Linked DNA regions of Homo sapiens: region 1 is linked to region 2. Evidence: fine-mapped expression QTL. A gene starts in region 2. The other region holds a variant in brackets. All regions are shown on one strand. Distances are from middle to middle.

Region 1 (10,120 bases), 250 kb before region 2:
GCCTGGCTCATTTTTGTATTATTAGTAAGGACGGGGTTTCACCATGTTGGCCAGGCTGGTCTTAAACTCCCGACCTCAGGTAATCCACCTGCCTCAGCCTCCCAAAGTGATGGGATTACAGGCATGAGCCACCACAATGTTGCTAATTTCCAGGCCCAACCCCTAAAAACTCTGATTCAGTCATCCTGGAGTGCAATCCAAGAATCTGCACCCCACAAGATTTCCAGGAAACCAGGTTTAGTCTCATGCTTTGAGGAAAGGACATTGTGATGAGAAACACAGAAAGCTCTTTTAACATGTATATGCTCACAGTATTGAAACAAGGAGAAAGATAAATGTAGTGTCTTTCCTGCACAAGAAACAAAAGGATTATAAATCATGCTGCTATAAAGACACATGCACATGTATGTTTATTGCGGCACTATTCACAATAGCAAAGACTTGGAACCAACCCAAATGTCCAACAATGATAGACTGGGTTAAGAAAATGTGGCACATATACACCATGGAATACTATGCAGCCATAAAAAATAATGAGTTCATGTCCTTTGTAGGGACATGGATGAAGCTGGAAACCATCATTCTCAGCAAACTGTCGCAAGGACAAAAAACCAAACACCGCATGTTCTTACTCATAGGTGGGAATTGAATAATGAGAACATATGGACACAGGAAGGGGAACATCACACTCTGGGGCCTGTTGTGGGGTGGGGGGAGGGGGGAGGGATAGCATTAGGAGATATACCTAATGCTAAATGACGAGTTAATGGGTGCAGCACACCAACATGGCACATGTATACATATGTAACTAACCTGCACATTGTGCACAAGTACCCTAAAACTTAAAGCATAAAAAAAAGAAAGAAAAAGGAAACAAACATTAAAAAAGACAAAAACAAATTTTTATAATAAATTTAATTTTTTTGCCTTCAGTTCTCAAGGGAAAAAGAAGCAGCATCACCACACACTCCGCTCCCAGCCTTTTACTTTACTCATTTAAACTTAAAATACAAAACTTAGTCTTGAGCAAGTGTGGTTAAAAATCTAAGAGAAACAACAAAAATAGAGAAGAATCCAACATATTCAGTTACTATTTCTTCTAAAGAAGGAGAATGGAGCATCTAATATTTCTTATGCATGAAATCAAAGACATATTGAGGCACATAGCAGAAATGCTTTAATGACCTAGAGAAGGGTTGTAAAAACCTTGGCTTATTTGATTCCTCAAGTTGCACACCACCAGAAGACCATGGAGTAAGTAGTACTGAATTAAAATTTAAGCACAGAAAACTAGGTCCCAAACTATCAGAAAATGATTCCCAATTCTAAATGTTCAACCACATCTATCTTAAAACATTTATAATATTTTTTTCAAATTCTCTCATAACATTCCAAATGACTAGTTTTCTCTGCTATATTTTCTCAACTTTCAAATTAAAATTCTTTGCTTTAAAGTTAAAAAAAAAAAAAAGAAACATAACCATCCCTCCTCCAGATTTTCTAGTAGATTCTATAGTGAAGGTGAAATTAAAGGAACCATTTAAGTAAACAAGAGGAATGTATTTTTGGAAAACTGTCTCATGAAGAGTGCAAAGAAAGTATTTGAATTTGCTTTGAAACATAGAAAGAAACATTTAAAGGAAAGTAGGCCTTGTTGGCATGGTGGAAGAATCTGAAATAGCCAAGAGCAAGGCCAGCGTAAACCTTCCAAGGGCCATTCATTCTAATAATCGTGTCTTCTTTGGACATATAGCTTACTCCCATTTAATCTAGGAAGATATCTGAATTAGGCCTTTGCCTATAGAACTGTGATTCTCATTACCAGCTACACATTAGAGTTATCTGGGAGCTTTAATAAATACAAATGTCTGAATCTCACTGACTGGATAGTGGGTTTTAATTGGTCTGAAGTATGATCTGATTACCAGAATTGCTGAAAGCATTTCAGAGATTTTTAATGTGCAGGTAGATTAATAACCACTGCTCTAGTTAACTTAGCAAGTACTGCAGCAGTATAAAATTAACCTAAGATTGACAGTAGAGTAATTCACAATGCTTTGCATTTGCAGTTCATCATTAGCTAAAAACTCAATATTTTCAGTGTTTCCCAGGCCCTTAAATAAACAAAGCTCTTATTTTGAGGATTTGTCACCACACTGTTAAGAGAGTCTTTTTTTTTTTTTCTTAAGTGTCACTTTTGTAATCAGCCCTGTGTACATTCATTGTTCAGGGACAACTGCCTGATCTTTCACAGAGAAGCTTTTACTTCTGAAATTCCCAGATTCTTTCCCCAAAGTCCCTGTTCTCTGCATAGAACTTCCCTCCCCGCTCTAGCCTCGATAATATACCCTATGAGATCGGCACAAACAAGACATTCTGAGTCTTGACAGAAGGACAGAATGTGAGAGGAGAATAAAAGTTTCCTTTGTGTAGAGCATTGGTTGAACTTGCTGGTGTTGGTGAAGGAATTCAGCTTCCTGGTTGCATAGTATCTGTGTAGTTTCATTTTCATTTTCACTTTTCCCTTGTTCATTCAACAAATATTTGAATCATTACCATATGCTACTCACTTTGCTGAGCGTTAAGGATACAGTAATGAATAGGAAAGAAAGGAGTGATGAATAGGAAAGAAAGAATAGAACTGAAAGGAGGGTGGTGGAGAGTCCTTTCTCCTCAAATTTAATTTTAATAGAATAGATTTAAACACGCAGAGATTGTATAAAGCTGACAGTAGCCATCAAGTATGGCTATGAAGTGGGTTGTACCTCTGTATGGCTCTTTCTAAAACTTTGGCAGGGACCACTCAGTACTTGAGCTTTTGGTGCTAAGGTACTTCTAAGCCATGAACTTAAGCCTGCCTCTATTTGGAGGCTTTTTTTTTTCCTAAAACATGAAATTGTTTCCTAAAGAAATGAATCAAAATCCAAGCTGATTTTGCAAATAAGAAATCTTAGAAGAAAGGGATTTTGTCAGCCACTAATATAAAATCATCTGGGAATACAAAATTTTTACTGAACTAGAATCTCAGTGGCTGACAGGGGAACCTGCATTTTTAACATGGACCCCAGGACTAAAGTATGATAACTGTCACCTCAGAGAATCTGGTCTGTCTCTCATTGACATTTTTCTTTTATCAATCCCAATCAGTGAGTCCTTATGGATATTTTTCCAACTTGATTATCAAGTCAATAGGTTTCCACAAGGATTTTGAATAAGGCTATCTTCTTAAACTAGTATTAATAAATCCCGTATATGATATATGGGACGCCATCTGGTGAAGTAACAAAGGAACTTGTCTATAAATGTTTGAACTGAGGAGAGGGGAACACTCAAGGTCAGCCATCCAAAGCAAGTGAGGAGCAATTCAGGTGGGCAAGACTAGAATATGTTAGTAATCAAAACATTGAAACCTACTCAATGACATTGTAGTAGGGCTGAGAAAAGCCTGTGAACAGGTCTATTTATGCCTTCTCTCTAGTTTTAGACTTTATGTTGTCTAAAACAAACAAACAAAAAATCCTGTTATTGTCACTAAGCATTGACTGTCCAGGAGAGAAATAGAGAGAGAAAAAATAAATGTCTGATAAAAAGAGAAAGCCTTTTGTCTCTGAGTTAGAGAGGAGCCACCAGGCTTCATCATGAACTGGAGGAAGTCTTCTGAAGACTATCTCAAGACTTGGCTCAAGGTCCATAATCATTGCTCAGTTTTCTTACTGTAATCTGGAGTTCCCCTGAGATTTCAATACTAAGAGAGTGCACTGGCCAGAACATCTTTGCATCCCAGTGCCCTTAGTGTTTATTTTTCTCACTGTGAATTCATATGCTGGCATGTGGTTTATCCTTTTTTCTCTATTGAGCCTGGAGAGTATTGGTTGAGCCCCCAGCTCCATCAACCTCTCTAATTATGGTGTCAAAACAGAAAACAGAAACAGAGTTTCTTGACTTCAAACTTGAGCATTAAGACTCTGTGGGACTACACTTAGGTGAGCAGCTGGACTCATTCAATAACATGTTTAGGTTGTTTCTCAACAACCGTAACACATATGATAGACTTTTTAGAGCTCTTAGGAGACAAGCTTTTATTTTACAAAGAAGGAAACAGATTGAAAGAGGTGAAGTGGTGAGCTAAGGCCAAAAAGCAAGAACATGGATGGATAAGGACAGAAAACTTTTCAATCTAAGGGTAATGTTTCTTCTACAGCATGACAGCATCTCTCACAAACTGTGCTTGCCACAATGACTTTGTTTTCATCCACTTATATGTCCACTGAGCTTTTGATGACAGTATACCTTTGTTAGGATGCAAATAGATAAAATGACTTCATAATTATAGAAACTTTACAGTAATTTTGTCCAAGGCCCTATAGCTTCCAAAACAAATATGTATCAATATATATTGATATACTTCTTAAGCCTGGCATAGATTTCTTCTTTTCCTTTTAGTCACCTAGAAATGTCCCTATCTAAGCATATTAAAAATCAGATTGAAGACAAACAAAACTCCCTTGCTTGAAAATGTGATCTCCCTCCTTTTGAAAATAATAAAAACTGACAAAATATTTATGTTCTATTAAAAGACACAGTCAACCCTTAAACTTGGTTTTTTCCTTAAAAAACACATCACCAAGTACTAAAAGGCTAGTTCCTATGAAACTGTCTCCAGCTAGAAAGGGAGGTCAAGATGCCCCACAAATGTGATTTACTTCCTTAAGCATGTTTAGACAGATCTCTTGCACACAGAATTGCCTTTAAATAAATAGCCATATAAAATTAATTTTGTCTGTTTTGCCTCAAGTTTGTTGTGCTTGAGGTTTATTTGCCTGGTGTTTACAGGGCTGGGGTATAACAGAAAGCAGACCAGAAATCAACACATTTTATCTGGGCTCTCAATGCCATGTTTCAGAACAGTCACTGGCCTCCCACCAGACTGTTGATTGGATTCAGATTATGACCTTCCTATTCGTTCCATTTAAATTACCCTGAAGGTATGACCTCAACAGTGCTCTGAGACAGTGTTGGAATAAGCTTTGCAAACAGCCCAAGCTAGGAATTCAAAAAGCCCTCAGCAGTAGCCTAAGAAAATCTTTATTACAGAAAAACTTACAGATTTGATGTAAAACATGCTTATAATCACTTTGGGAATAGCGTTTGCATGATGTATTACAGCTTGTATGAACTGGAAAGAGAAAACCTCTTCTAAATGATTATCCAAAACAGTTTTAAACCAGGGGTATCTCTGAAACAGTAAGTTGGTATAAACAATTGTTAGGGATTTTAAAATGTAGACTGTTCTCCTTCATTTCACCTCTGATTTTCAGGTAGCTGCACAGCTCTCAGGCTAACATCTTTCTCTATATAGTTGATACTACAGTTTGTGTCTGTGTGTACCTGGCTCATGCATCTGCAGTGAAATTAATTGCCAGGGTCAGGACCACAGAAG[C/A]CAAAAGAGATTAATAGAAAAAGACATTAGTGCTTCAGAAGATAAAGGGCTTAGAATTCTACAAATATGACTCCCTCTGATTACAAAATGGTAACTTCCTACTTTTAGAACGATCAAAAAGACAGAACACAGAAACGTTAATAACAGTTGGCCTCATATTACCCAACATCCACATATGTTAGAAACTATCCATGTAATTAGAATTGAAATCTCTGAATTGCAACAGCACATCCTAACCAAAAATAGATGTGGCCAGAAGTCTACTAAGTGGGGACCACCCATCCTTCCAGGTTCTACATGAAACTGAGTGGGAGTTTGGCCCAGAAAAGGCAAAGTTCCCTTTTAAAATTGGGGGAAAAAGTAGTCTGTGAAAAATTAACAACTGTTACAGAAGTTTTAACTATTAAAAACAGAGATTGCATCTATAATACCCACATCTTGGTTTCTAATGCCATTCCCAGAAATGGAAACAAATAAACTGAAAAACAAGGATCCTTAGAGAAATGGCTGATCCAGGACCGGGATAGGAAATATACCATATGAACCTGGAACATCTCTTAGTACCTGAAAGTGAGGACATGCTCAACAAAAACCGAAACCCATTGATAGGAACATGTCAAAGGGGGAATGGGAACCAATGGAAAGAGCTCCCAATGGTCAAATTTGAAACAACTTGAGCAAACAAAATACATAAAGTAGTATTGGATTATAAACCAAAATGTAAAATAAATATTCATGAATCTGTACTTACATGAATATGAATCCCAAATAATTTATGTATTCTACTCTCAAGGAAGTGGATCATAACTCTCCACTCCATAAGTGTGTGCTGCATATAGTAACTCCCTTCTCAAGAGTGCATTATGGTAGCCAGGCGCGGTGGCTCATGCCTGTAATCCCAGCACTTTGGGAGGCCGAGGCAGGCGGATCAACTGAGGTCAGGAGTTTGAGACCAACCTGACCAACATGGAGAAATCCTGTCTCTACTAAAAATACAAAATTAGCCAGGCATGGTGGCACATGCCTATAATCCCAGCTACTAGGGAGGCTGAGGCAGGAGAATTGCTTGAACCCGGGAGGCGGAGGTTGCGGTGAGCCGAGATTATGCCATTGCACTCCAGCCTGGGCAACAAGAGTGAAACTCCGTCTCAAAAAAAAAAAAAAAAAAAAAAAGGTATTATGGAGAGGAGTGGGGGAGTACCTTTACAGTGGAGAAGCCCGACAACCATACCACGGCCAGGTGGCCATGGCTAACATCATCAGTGATAAGTCGTATTGATAGTATACATCTTTGATATGATGCAATGAGAATTACATTTTACCTCTATGGTCTTCCTCTGCCGAAACCCCACTCCTGAGAAAACAACAGACAAATTCTACAAAATACCTGGTCCATACTCCTTAAAATTTCAAGTCATCCAAAACAAACAAACAAAAGAGTCTAAGAAACTGTCACATCCAAGAGGAGCCAAAACGTAATATGGTATCCTATATGGGATCCTGGAACAGAAAAAAGAGTACACATACACACACGCACACACGCACCCCTCCTAAGCAAACCTGAATAAAGTATGGGACTTAGTTTATAATACTATATCAATATTGGTTCGTTGCTTGTGACAAATATACCATTTTAATGTGAAATGTTAATAATAGGGGAAGCTGGATGTGGGGTATATGAGGACCCTCTGCATTACCTTCATAACTTTTCTGAAAATCTAAAACTATTCTAAAATGAGAAGATGATCAAAACTAGCATTTAGTAAAAAGCAGAATAGAGTGGTAAGATAGGTGCACAATGGGTAAGGAAAAGAAGGAATAAAGGGATATAATCAGGTAATGTGCTTGAGTTTGTTGTGAAGTTATAGAAACCTGGGGAATATTTCTTAGGGACAATCCCTGTCCTGGGTGTGTGCAACACACTGATAGTCAACCTAAGGACATTTCAACCTGAGGACCATGAGGGCTCATGCATACATTTGCATGTTAGAAGGCAGGAAGAGATGAATGCCTGGAATAGAATGCCTAGGAGTTCTAAGAGGGAACAGTTGTGCTTTCTGATGTTAAGATTACAGGAAAAGGGCCAGGTGCGGTGGCTCACACCTGTAATCCCAGCACTTTGGGAGACCGAGGCGGGCGGATCACGAGGTCAGGAGATCGAGACCATCCTGGCTAACGCGGTGAAATCCTGTCTCTACTAAAAATACAAAAAATTAGCAGGGCGTTGTGGTGGGCACCTGTGGTCCCAGCTACTCAGGAGGCTGAGGCAGGAGAATGGCGTGAACCCAGGAGGTGGAGCTTGCAGTGAGCCAAGATCAGGCCATGGCACTCCAGCCTGTGCGGCAGAGCAAGACTCCATCTCAAAAAAAAAAAAAAAAAAAGATTACAGGAAAATGGTTTCTCTTCAACCCAGTTATGGAGGACTTTCAAGCCTCCAGTTCTCGTTTCTGCAGGCTTGCTCTATTCTAGGGCTGAGAGTCTAATTCCAGGAGAAAGCTTTTCAGGGATCCTTTTCATAATCAATAAACATCTGTTGAGCATCTGTTATGAAGCAGGAACTGGAAATACAGAAATGAACAGGCAGTGACTGTGCTTGCTCAGAAATAGGCAAGGGTGTTCTTTTGAATCCTCAGATTTCAATTGTCTGTGACAGAACACGGAGTTGCATTCAAGTTTTATCATCTGAGTAAGAGGATACCGTAGGGGGAGGCAGGGTTTTATGAGACCTAAATTACTATGAACACTTACTACACATGTAATACAATTTTTACCTCAAATATTCAAAAAAAAAAAAAAACAAAAGAAAGAAATGATCAGCATGAGGTCCTTCATGTCAGGAATCTCACTGAATAGTGGAGTGGGTCTGTAAGGCAGCATGAGAATTGCTAAAATAGAATTAAACATGGGCTGCTAAGGGGACATAGAAAAGAAGTATCTAGATTGTACTTGGGGTCAGTGAAGACTTGAGCTGAGTGTAGAAGGATAACTTAGAAATAGGTTAGGTGAAGGGCTGGGCCTTGAGGCAAGAGGGAGCAGCTGAACAAAGTTTGGAGGGATAAAACATGTCCCAGGTGGGTGCCGTGGCTCATGCCTGTAATCCCAACACTTTGGGAGGCCAAGGCAGGAGGATCACGAGGTCAGGAGATTGAGACCATCCTGGCTAACACAATGAAACTCTGTCTCTACTAAAAATTTTTTAAAAAATTAGCTTGGTGTGGTGGCACTTGCCTGTAATCCCAGCGACTCGGGAGGCTGAGGCAGGAGAATTGCTTCAACCCGGGAGGCGGAGGTTGCAGTGAGCTGAGATTGTGCCTTTGCACTCCAGCCTGGGTGACAGAGCGAGACTCCATCTCAACAACAACAACAACAACAACATGCCCCACCTGAAGAAGTGCAACGAATTCTGCACAGCTGGAGTGAAGGGTATCTGTGGGCAAGGGCAAGAGTTAAGGTCAAAGGTGGAGATAAGGTCAAAGGGTAAAGACTGGGCAGAACAATAAGGGCCTCAGAAGTGACCTAGGGACTTGAACTATTTCTAGAACATTATAATCATCCTTCTCACAGTCTCTTATATCCTATTTCCACGTCTCCACTGGTGCTTCACAGTAATGTACTGAATGAAGTCCTATAAGACAAATGGAGAGATGAACGTGAACTTGACTGATGTCAGAGGACAGACCACAGACTGATGTTTCACTGTCATTTTTATTGTACTATATAACTCAATTCTATCATAAAGATTACATTTTAAAGAAAATAAAAACTCAAGTGATGAATGTGTGAAATTTCCACCTTATGAAAATGATAAAACAATGTGTAGGGGGACTTCCTAAACCAGGCAAATTGTTCCATAGAACACTTTAAAAAATCCCTACCCTTAACTTCGGACATCCTCAGGATGAAGATCTGGCTATTCATGTAATCATAGATTTAATTTCTCCCACAGATTGTGCATATTAATTTCTATTAATTTCTCCCACAGATTGTGCATATTAATTTCTATTAATTTCTCCCACAGATTGTGTTTATTAATTTCTATTAATTTCTCCCACAGATTGTGCATATTCTGTGAGTGCCTTCAGGGTACAGAAAACTACTTTAACTCCAGCATTCCCTTAGTAACAACAGAAATGTTCTTAGAACTGATAATGTTCTGCTTAAGGAAGAGAAGTCTAAGGGGCGATGTTTGAAGAAGGACTCGTGACTGGAGTCTGTCATGGTTGGCCTGGAGAACACATAGCTCATGAGGGCTAAGCAGGAACACTGTTGGTCTAGTTTCCCTCATATCCCCAGTGCCTAGCAGGCAGCCTGGCAAGAGTAGACACTCAGTGAGGACTACCGGATGGCTGAAGGATGTGGAATGGAGGGATGGAGGAAAGGACAGGTGGGGGCATTTGGGAAGTGACGCTGCCAACTACACAAAGCTGGCACTCTTAGGAGAGGTGGTGAAGGTCCACTGTCGAAAGCCTAAATGGTGGCACAGCATAGATTAGCTCTGAGACCATGGGTTCTGAAACCTGGCTCTGTGGAGTTGCTTCCTGTCTCTGTCACTTTCTAGCCTGGTATGGATAAGAAACATCACCTTTCTCTCCTACATTTCCTCATCAGAAAATGAGGAATAATAAAATATATTATAATAATGTTTATATATTATGATTGTTGTGAGGATTAAATGATACA
Region 2 (9,912 bases):
CAAGACTCCATCTCAAAAGAAAAACAGGCATAAGATTGAACAGCCACAACATAAGAGAAAAAGTCAAAATATAATAAGCACATGAACTCAACCTTGAAGGCAATCAGAACACTGTGAATTAGAACAACAATGAGCTATCATATTTTGCTTATCAGACTAGCAAGATAAGATTGATAAAGTCCAGTGCTAGCAAAAATGTGAGTAAACATCCTTGGTAAGAGTGGACACTGAAACATTTGTGGATAAAAATTGGAGGTATATATGAAAATTTAAAATGTTCCTACCCTGTGGCTCAGTAATCTCATTTCTAGGGCTTTCTCCAACAACATATTTGGAGAGCAATTTGGTAGCTATCAAAATTTTAATGTTCATTCTCTTTGAGCCAACCAAGTCATTTATTTTTTATTTTATTTATTTATTTATTTATCTATTTATTTTTTTGAGACACAGTCTCAATCTGTTGCCCATGCTGGAGTGCCATGGCACTATCTCGGCTCCCTGCAACCTCTGCCTCCCAGGTTCAAGCGATCCTCTGGCCTCAGCCTCCCTAGCAGCTGGGACTACAGGCGTGCACCACCACTCCTGGCTAATTTTTGTATTTTTAGTAGAGAGAGGGTTTCACCATGTTGGGCAAGCTGGTGTGGAACTCCTGACCTCAGGTGATCTGCCTGCCTTGGCCTTCCAAAGTGTTGGGATTACAGGCAGACGCGAGCCAACCTGCCTGCCAATCAGGCCATTCTAAGTATCTATCCTAAAGTCCATGCAAAGACAATCCTAGCAGCACTTCTTAAAATAAAAAGCTGGAATTACTAAAGACCTAACAATGGAAGAATGGTAGAATATATTACAAACTATGTAACCATTAAAAAAAAATGGAGTAAATCTATACATAGTTACCTGGAATATGTGATTTCATTAAGTTTAAAAAAGAAAAGTCACAGAAATTATTGCATTTTGAATTTTTAAAATATTTGCATGTGCATACAGAGACATGACTATATACACATGTAAAAAAGGAGGCAACCACCAATACGTCAATGGTGGTTACCTCTGAGACAGGATTAGATGAAGGAAGGAGGATGTGTGATTTGGAAGTACTATATTTTACTGTATAGATAAAGATGTAGATTTCTTTTTAACAGTGCTAGGATTTGGGGTAGTTTTTTAATCTTTGGATATTTTTAGCAGTTTTCTATTTTTTTTCTAAAGAAAGAAACATAGTTCTCCCACATATGGACATGCCATTCTTCTGAGGATGCTTAAGTTGACCCCAGGAGGAGCCCTAGCTGCTGTTCCCCATTAGAGGCCCCTTTTCAGCAGGAAGTAGCCAGAAAGAGTCCTTGCCCAAAACCCCCTAACAGCAGTTAGTGTGATATCGCCACAGGGAGGAATGTGGCATGAGTTATCAAGAAATTATTTTAGGCAGATAGAGAGTAAAAGGGGTCCTTGGGAAGTTTTCATTTTTTAAAGTATCTCCAGAAAAGTTTCTTGTAAAACCCCGGCTTTTAGAGCCAGGCGGGCAACCTTTGATATGCAAACCTAGGCCATTAGAAACTGGGTTCACCCAAACATGCCGATTCCAGGGACCTTCTTGCCCTTGCCCCACATGTTCCTGGCAACATGGCCGCCCCCACATATCCCTATTTGTGTAGAACATCATGGCGCCCCGCATTTGCATATTAAAAGGCTAGAGTGGGAGGGCCAGCTCTTTCATGGGCTACGTGAATTACGTGCCTAGTCAAACCAATCCCCTGAGCCCTAGGCAAATCAAACACCGCCTCCTCCAGCCTCTGCTTATATACCTGGCTGGTATCCGCAGCAAGTGGGGACTTACTCTTTTGGCTTTGGAGCGCCCCCCTCCCTCTGTCTCTGTACAGGGAAGCTTCTTCTTTCTTCCTTCTCCCTTTCCTTCTTGACCCTTCTTGCCTATTAACCTCTCCACTCCTTAAAACCAAAAAAAAAAAAAAAAAAAAAGAAATGTGGTTCTCAAAGAAGACAAATGAAGTAGCAATGATAAAACTCCTTCCCTATTTGAGAAGGAGGAGAGAGAAAAGGAGCCACGGCAGAAACCAACAGAGGAATGCCACAGACAGAGGGGAGGCTCCCGCCAGAGGATGGCAGAGGCCTGGAAGCCAAGGCGTGAGAACTTCAAGAGGAGGAAGTGAACCGAAGCCCAGTGCTGCAGAGAGGCCTGGAGGGCCCTCCCAGAGAGCAGCCAGTGAGTGGTAGTGATGAAAGCCAGGTGCAAAGAATTCAAGGGAGCCATTTTCCACCCTGCCTGTGCATTTTTGTAAAAACAGAGAAGTCAGAGCCCCATTCTAAACCTCCTGCATTAGAAGCTCTGCAAGTGACACCCAGACACAGTACATTTTAAACACTCAGGTGATTCTTGTTCACAGCCAAGGTTGAGAACCAGTGAGTTAAGGCACTGAGAGGGAAGTAAGTAAGGAAAGCTGGTGTGCGTAAGTCATTCTTTCACTAAGATTGGCAGGTAAAGAAATGAGTGAATTAAACTGTAAAGCCATCAAAAGGGTCAAAGAAGATGTAGAAGTTGTAGGTTGAGATAAAGAAGCCTATGGGGCAGAAAAGATTAAATATGCAAGAAAGGTAGAGGAAAGGGGAAGGAAAGAAAGGAACTTGATGTTTCTAGACTTTGTTAGATGGCACACATTTTACATATGCCATCACCATTATTATTCATTTGACTGGATTTTTGAGGCACATGCTACTGTGTCCAATTTACAGTGAGAAACCAAGAATAGCAAGGACCTAACCCAGTGCCAGTGCTGGGCTCTTCCTCTGCATCAGGCTGAGAAGCAAGGTCTTGGAGGAAGTAAACGGATATGGAGTCCAGGACTCAGGTAGGGAGTCAGCTTGCAAAGGACGAACACGTCCGCTAAGACAGAGATGCAGAAATGAACTAGAGGAGGACATCAGTAAAGAAGCTGTGAAGCTGGAGCACATCAGTGCATAGAGAGAAGGAGATAGTCAAAGAACCACTGTGGGGCAGAAAAGGAAAATATAGTGGCTCACTGCGGATTTCATCATCTCAGGAAAGCTGGGGCAAGGTAACTCACTGACAATGAGTACCCGTGGCTTTGTGACAGTGCCTGTGTGCTACACAACAGAGCAGAAAGCCAGCCCTGCCCTTCTTACCAGTGAGGTATGGATTAGCCACGCAACGACCAGTCTGTAAGCCAGGAGTACAGACGAGCCAAGCTGCCTGCAGCTGAGTGGGAACCACAAGGAGGAAAAGCCAAGTCCCTGCCTTCTAAGAGCTGACAGTCTGGAGTTACCCAGAGTGATCTTCTATTTCACTAACTGTTAAAATAGTCTGATTAGAACAACTATTGTAGAATTGAGTGACCCTTTGCTTTGCAAAGGTCATATAGAAATATTCTGCCACTGAGGATCTCATGTCGCCCAGTGGTTCTGAAAATAAATAGAAGTTGCGTACCTTCATGGACACCCATGAATGAAAGTAAATATACCCTAATCATCACAGGAAGCATGTGCGGTCTGCACGTGAAAGATGCATCTCCCATCAGCTAACAGAACCAGGTGGAGTCTATGTTTTAATAAGGACGTGTTATTGATCAGGAAGTATTAGGTTATTATGCCTAGGTAGTTGCTTCTGGGATTCCAGTCCAAAAGGATCACCAAAGCATCATGGGATTTTCAATGGCTTCCTGTGGCTTGGCAAATGCTCACTGCTAACTGTGATTTCCCAGTTATCCAGAGTAGCAGTCAAATCAAAGGGGAAAGCCTCATGTTTCAATAACTTAAAACAAAACAAAAAAAAAAACGGCCAGGCGCAGTGGCTCACGCCTGTAATCCCAGCACTTCAGGAGGCCAAGGTGGGTGGATCATGAGGTCAGGAAATCAAGACCATCCTGGCTAACAGGGTGAAACCTCATCTCTACTAAAAATACAAAAAACTAGCCGGACATGGTGGCACGCGCCTGTAGTCCCACCTACTCGGGAGGCTGAAGCAGGACAATTGCTTGAATCCAGGAGGCAGAGGTTCCAGTGAGCCGAGATGGGGTCACTGCAATCCAGCCTGAGCGACAGAGCGAGACTCTGTCTCAAAAAAACAAACAAAAACAAACAAAAAAAAAAACTCAGTAACCTTGGTTTAAAGTATTTCCTTGGTGGCCCTCTGGGTTGTGTAACAATCGGATGCATTAATTATTATGGCATCAAATGACACCAGCAACATACATAGTCAGAAATAACTATTTGATTCAGGCAGGTGCTATTATTTGTTTCAGCACTGTTAAATGTGGGGTTTTTGTTTTTGCAAGAGAAAAGGCGGTTGTGTGTGGTTTCAAGAAGAAGAAAAGTCAGAACAACATGCAGCCCATTAGAAAAGATAAATTCTTTATTTGTGGAAAACAACAGAAGTGGGGCTATTTAGGCACCGCCAATGTTTATTATATTCATATGGCAGAGAATAAACACAGCACACTAGAAGTTTGCGCTTTGGGTATTAAAAAAAAAAAAAAGCAAAACCTTCTTAGGTCACTGACTATCTTCTTTTGCTCCTTTCTATCTGACTCCTCAGGCAAGGTGCAATTCAAATCCCTGGAGAACCTCTCAAATATAGCTGCTGTTCAATGTTACTCAGAAATAAGGAAAGAAATTTGACACGGAGACACTCCACATCTTGGCTGCCTGGAAAAATATCATCTTTGAGGTCATTCAACTCACTAAGTCATTTTTATTATTGTTTTGTCTGTCTATTTTCTGGTACAGTCTCAATGAAAGATATGTGGCCCTAATCATGCAAAACCGATCTGGGGGGAATCAGTTGTTTCTTCAGGTCTTCGCAGGATTCCAGCTCCCCCAACTACCTCCGTCGCCTTCTAAAACTGGCAGGCTCTGGACGTTTTGCATGCTGAAGAAAATCACTGTTTTGCCTCCAGCAAGGAACATAAATGTTGCAACACTGACTCCTCCTCTCATGAAGAAAGAGTGAACAAGTGCACCGAGTTGAGCTTCTTCTCACAGAGCCACCGGGCTGGGGACCGGGGAGCGGAGGCTGAAATCCCCAGACGCCGGTTTTCTGGGCTGGGCTTTCTGCCTTACTCACTCCTTCTCCCTCTTTCTGGATTTTACCGACCGTTCGCGAAACAGCTTTCCACACAATGGAGCTTCATGTCCTCGTGCAGGAAGTACTCATCGACTGATGTGGCAGACTTTGCTCCCTGGCAAAAGTGAGTACCCATGGCGAGCTGAGGCCGCCTCCGACGGCGCGCGGCAGGGGCTGCGCGGGCGGCCGCTCTCCGGGATGCGGGTTCGAGGCCCGCGTGCTGAAGGGGAGAGCGGGGCCACCGGCGCGGGCTCCTGGAGAGAACGCCAGCCAGGAGCCAGAGTCGGCAGCCGGCGGGGAAGCCCGGGATCCGCCCGCCTCCCGCCCGGATGTCCCTTCTCAGAGGGGCTAAAAAATACTCTTAAGGTGCTTTGCCTCCACCACTGCCCCCAACCCCAGCTTTTACAAACTGCACTCGGCTCGCATTCGCCTTTGTCAAAGGCATCTTCACCTGTATCCTTGAGCATGAGTTTCGGCGTTGATTGTGGGATTCTCAGAATGCAAATTATTTGCGTCAAAATAAAAAGAAAAGAAAAAAAGAGCGGGGAGGGGGAAGGGGCGCAGACAGGTGATGTGATGAAAGCCGGACTCGAGACTCTCCCATCAGCAGCAGCCGCCGCCGCAGCAGCCTCGCGGGCATCCGGCGGGGAAAGTTTAGGGTTAGCAATGCTGACCTGAAAGGTGTTGCTCCTCCCAAAAGTCAGCGGGGGTAGGGGCAGATGAGCAGCCTCCGGGCCAGAAGCCGGAGCTGGACGGAGGCACCTAGGCAGAGGAATTGCAGCCCGGGAGGAAGCTGGAAGGAGAGCCCGCTGGAGAAGGGAGGAGGGAAGGGAAGAGGAGTTGGTTAAAGTCAGGCAAACTCAGGTAACTGGAGGGCCGGCCCGAGTGCTACGGCAGGGGAAGGCAAGGGCTGGAGTTCTGGCTCTTTGAGTAGAAAACTATCCTTTTAGTGACCTCTACCTGTATCCTGGGGAAGCAACCCACACTGCCCTGAAAACAAGCAACGTAGGGGATTCTATGACTGGACTTGAAAATGGTTGCAAAACATTATTATTAGTCTGGAGGGATCACTTTGTCTTCATTTGTCAAGTTGACCGGGCAAGATTTCCCACCTGAAATCGTGCTTCACTTGACCAGGGAAGTGCTGCTAATCCCAATCCTGACCATCAGCTGTGCAAACTTGGGCAAGATACTTACCCTCTCTGGGCTTCGATTTTTTTTCTGCAAAGTTTAGGGAATTAATTAATTATATATATATATTATAGAAATATATATAATATATATATAAATGTTTAATGAGGTGGAAGTGCTGAATAGTGCAAGAGAGGAGCAGATGAAAATATTAATTTCAGTGGTTCTTAAAAATTAGGGGTGATAGGTCCTTTTGAGAATTAGCTGTGAGTCCTCTTCCTGGGGCAAAATGCATATGGCATGTACATAAAATTTTACATGCAATCCCTGAGGGTTTGTGGATACTCCCTGAAAGCCATGCCTGAATCCCAGGTGACAATCCCTTATTCCTCCTCCTGTATCAAGACCACCCAGCCAACTCCTTGCTGCTGGTTGGGCTGACTGTGGGAGTAATCCACAGCCTTCTTGGGGGTCTGGAGTCAGCCACGCTGCTGAAGGAGACAGCTCCCCTGTCATGGGTGAGCTCCCCACATGCTCTCTCCAGAGCTCTACCAGCCTCTGACTCCAGGGGACCCCTCCTCACAACCCTTTTTAATGACTCTCCTAAGGCGACAGTCCTTACCCCTAGAATTTTCAGTCCCACCAACCCTGGAGAGCCATCTAAAGAGGATCGCTGTCTGAATCAGAGTGCTCTTCAGGTCACCTAGCTGGATGGCAGGGAGGCCAAGGCTTTGTTTGGAAATGAAGCAGTCTTTGCTCCCTGAGGCATAGTATGAGTAGGCAGCCATATTCTTTTGAACCTCTGTACTTTGCCTTTAGAGGACTAAGGACTCACATCTCTGGGGACCCTGGGTGTTCCACTAGCAGTGCCAGCAAGGCACATCAGAAAACACACAGGGCTTTGGAGCTCAACAGACTGGGCTTCAGATCTTGACTCCCACACTGAGCAAGCCTCTGAGTTTTCCTGAGCTTCACTTTTCCTGTCAGCACAATGAAAATAATGCTGCTTTTTTTTTTTTTTTTTTTTTGCATGGTTGTTGGGAGAATGGAAATACTATGAATCATGCCTAGCCCATAGTCAATGATAAACTTTTTCTTAATATTAATGTGGCACCATAAATAAGTGTTCAATAGTCTCATGCTTTTAAGAACAGCTTACTCTCTCTCTCCTATGGGGCTTACATTAGTAGAAGAATGAGTAAAATTAGTTCTGGTCTAGTTATGCACAAAAAGGAGTGGTGGCCTCAGAATACAGAGTCAGACTGGCTGTTCGAATTGTGCAGTGTCAAGGAGAGCACTATGTATTGCCGGCAAGTAAAGTATGTCCAGACCGGCGTGGATACTTGACCTGTCTCTCAGTTCTCTTTTGACCCATAATCTTGAGTACAAAACAGCTAGTGCTGTGCCTGCAGCTAAAAACAGCCAGGCATGGAAAGAAGTGTTGTGGCTGGGTCCATCTTCAGAAACTGTAGAGAGAAATATCTCCATTGTCATCTTTCACAGTTTGGCACAGATGTAGCCAACTCAGCATGTACTCTCTCTCCATGGGGTCCTGGTGCCTCCATTGCAAGTGGTCAGATGATGTAGCAATGAAAGAAGGAAACATCGGAAACTTAAAAGGAAATTGGATATCCACAGAGTAGCCAAAGATCTATCAGTATACTTTGGTGAGGTATTCCTGCATGCAAAGATAGCAATATTCATGCCTACTATTTACTGAGCCTTTAAGATGTGCTAAGCACTTTCACACATTGCCTCAATTAATTCTCATAGCAAGATTGCAGAGTATGAGTTATCATTTAAAGCTTTACCAGTAAAGAAACTGAAACATGGAAATGTACATACACCCCCCAACCCCACACCCCACATCCGCCTAGCTCAGGAAAGGCAGAACCAGGATCCAAGCCCAGGTCTGTCTGACTTTGGCACCCACTCTTTTTCCACTACCCAGTGCTCCCAAGCTCCCCAATATCAGGCACTTGCATCAGCCAACCGGATTAAGATTCTTCTAAAAGGCAGGAATAGCCAAATCTAGTGGGTGCTTTTAAGTGGTGTGAACATGTGCTTGGCTTGTGATACATATTAACGGGTAGCAACAACAAGATCACCTATGGGAGGATAATATTCCTGACCCTTCCCAAGCCCAGCCATTAGACTCAAGATTGGCAATATCCAACATTAGCAGGTGAGGCTGGCGCTCTGTCACTGACTTCCTTGGTAATCCTTTTAGTTAAACAGAGCTCTGGAATGTTCATTCTCTACCACCTTTAGAATCAGAACACCACTTACCTTTACCTCCCTGTGCTGAGCACGTTTTCATTCATTTATTCGACAAGCATTTGCTGAGCTCTGTTTTGTGCTGGGCACTTGATGACACAGTGGGGAATGAGACACACAGGATCCCAGCCCTTGTGGAGCTTCTATGCCAGAGAGAGTGACAGAAAACAGTCGGGTGAACAAATACATAAATAAAATCATTTCAGATACTGATAAATGCTATGAAGAAAATAGAGGCTGAAGGCTACAGAGGGACAGGGCGTGGGAGCAACTTTCAACAGGGAAGTCAGAGAAGACTGCCATACAAAGGATACCCTTGAACTTAAACCCGCATTTTCAAAAAGGGAGCCAGCCCTGTGAAAGTCTAGGGAAAGGGCTACCTTAGCAGAACTCTCAAGAGAAAGTTCTTAAATTGGAGTAAATGAAGCAGTAAAGCTTAAAGTCTGAAGATGGGCCCTTTAGAAGTTGACTTGTATATAGGGGGAATTATTATTTGAATGCCTACTGTACTATTCTAAGCTGTGCTGTATACTCTGTTTATCTTCCCAATGATCTGGTGAGTTAGCTATTTTTGTTTTTATTTTACAGTTGAAGAAACCAAGAGTCATCAAGGTTAAGGAGCTAGTCCAAGGTTATGGAGCTAGTCCAAGGTTATGAAGCTGGTATTTGAATCCCTTAGTCTATTTCACTCCAAAGCCCACAACTACTTGCTAACACAGCATGTGGGCTTTGAGATAATGTCTTTTGGAGAAAGTAAGGAAGCCGATAGAAGGAGAATATCAAAAGTAAATTAAGTAGCTGAATGCTGACAACGATTTGTATTTGATGTCCCAAATTCCAGTTAGTGCACCTACAACTGAACTGTCCAATACAGTAGCCACTAGCCACATGTGCCTATTGAGCACTTGAAATGTGGCTATTTCATATTGAGATGTACTGTAAATGTACAACGCACCCCAGATTTTTAAGACCTAGTATTCCCCCCAAAAAGTAAACTGTCTTGGCCAGGTGTGGTGGCTCATGCCTGTAATCCAAGCACTTTAGGAGGCCGAGGCGGGTGGATTGCCTGAGCTCAGGAATTCGAGACCAGCCTGGGGAACACGGTGAAACCCCGTCTCTATTAAAAATGCAAAAATTAGGCAGGCATGGTGGTGGGTGCCTGTAATCCCAGCTACTTGGGAGGCTGAGGCAGGAAAGTCTCTTGAACCCGGGAGGCGGAGGTTGCAGTGAGCCAAGATTGCGCCATTGCACTCCAGCCTGGGTGAAAGAGTGAGACTCCGTCTCAAACAAAAACAAAAACAAAAGTAAACTGTCTCAATTTTTATATTGATTGTGTGTTGAAATGATAATATTTTAGGTATACTAGTTTAAATAAAATATATTAAAATTAATTTAACCTTTTTCCTTTAATG

The links.
Region 1: its variant is fine-mapped to the expression of PRLR in whole blood (TOPMed, PIP above 0.99).

Annotation. Positions count from the first base shown.
Region 1 is chr5:35,471,689-35,481,808 of GRCh38, reverse strand. No RefSeq gene overlaps it. Among named protein-coding and RNA genes, the nearest start is that of SPEF2, 140 kb to the left of the region's middle. The variant C/A (reference allele first, on the strand shown) is at 5,441.
Region 2 is chr5:35,225,572-35,235,483 of GRCh38, reverse strand. It overlaps PRLR (prolactin receptor), which reads left to right and starts at 4,997. Exons shown (of 10, transcript NM_000949.7): 1 at 4,997-5,216.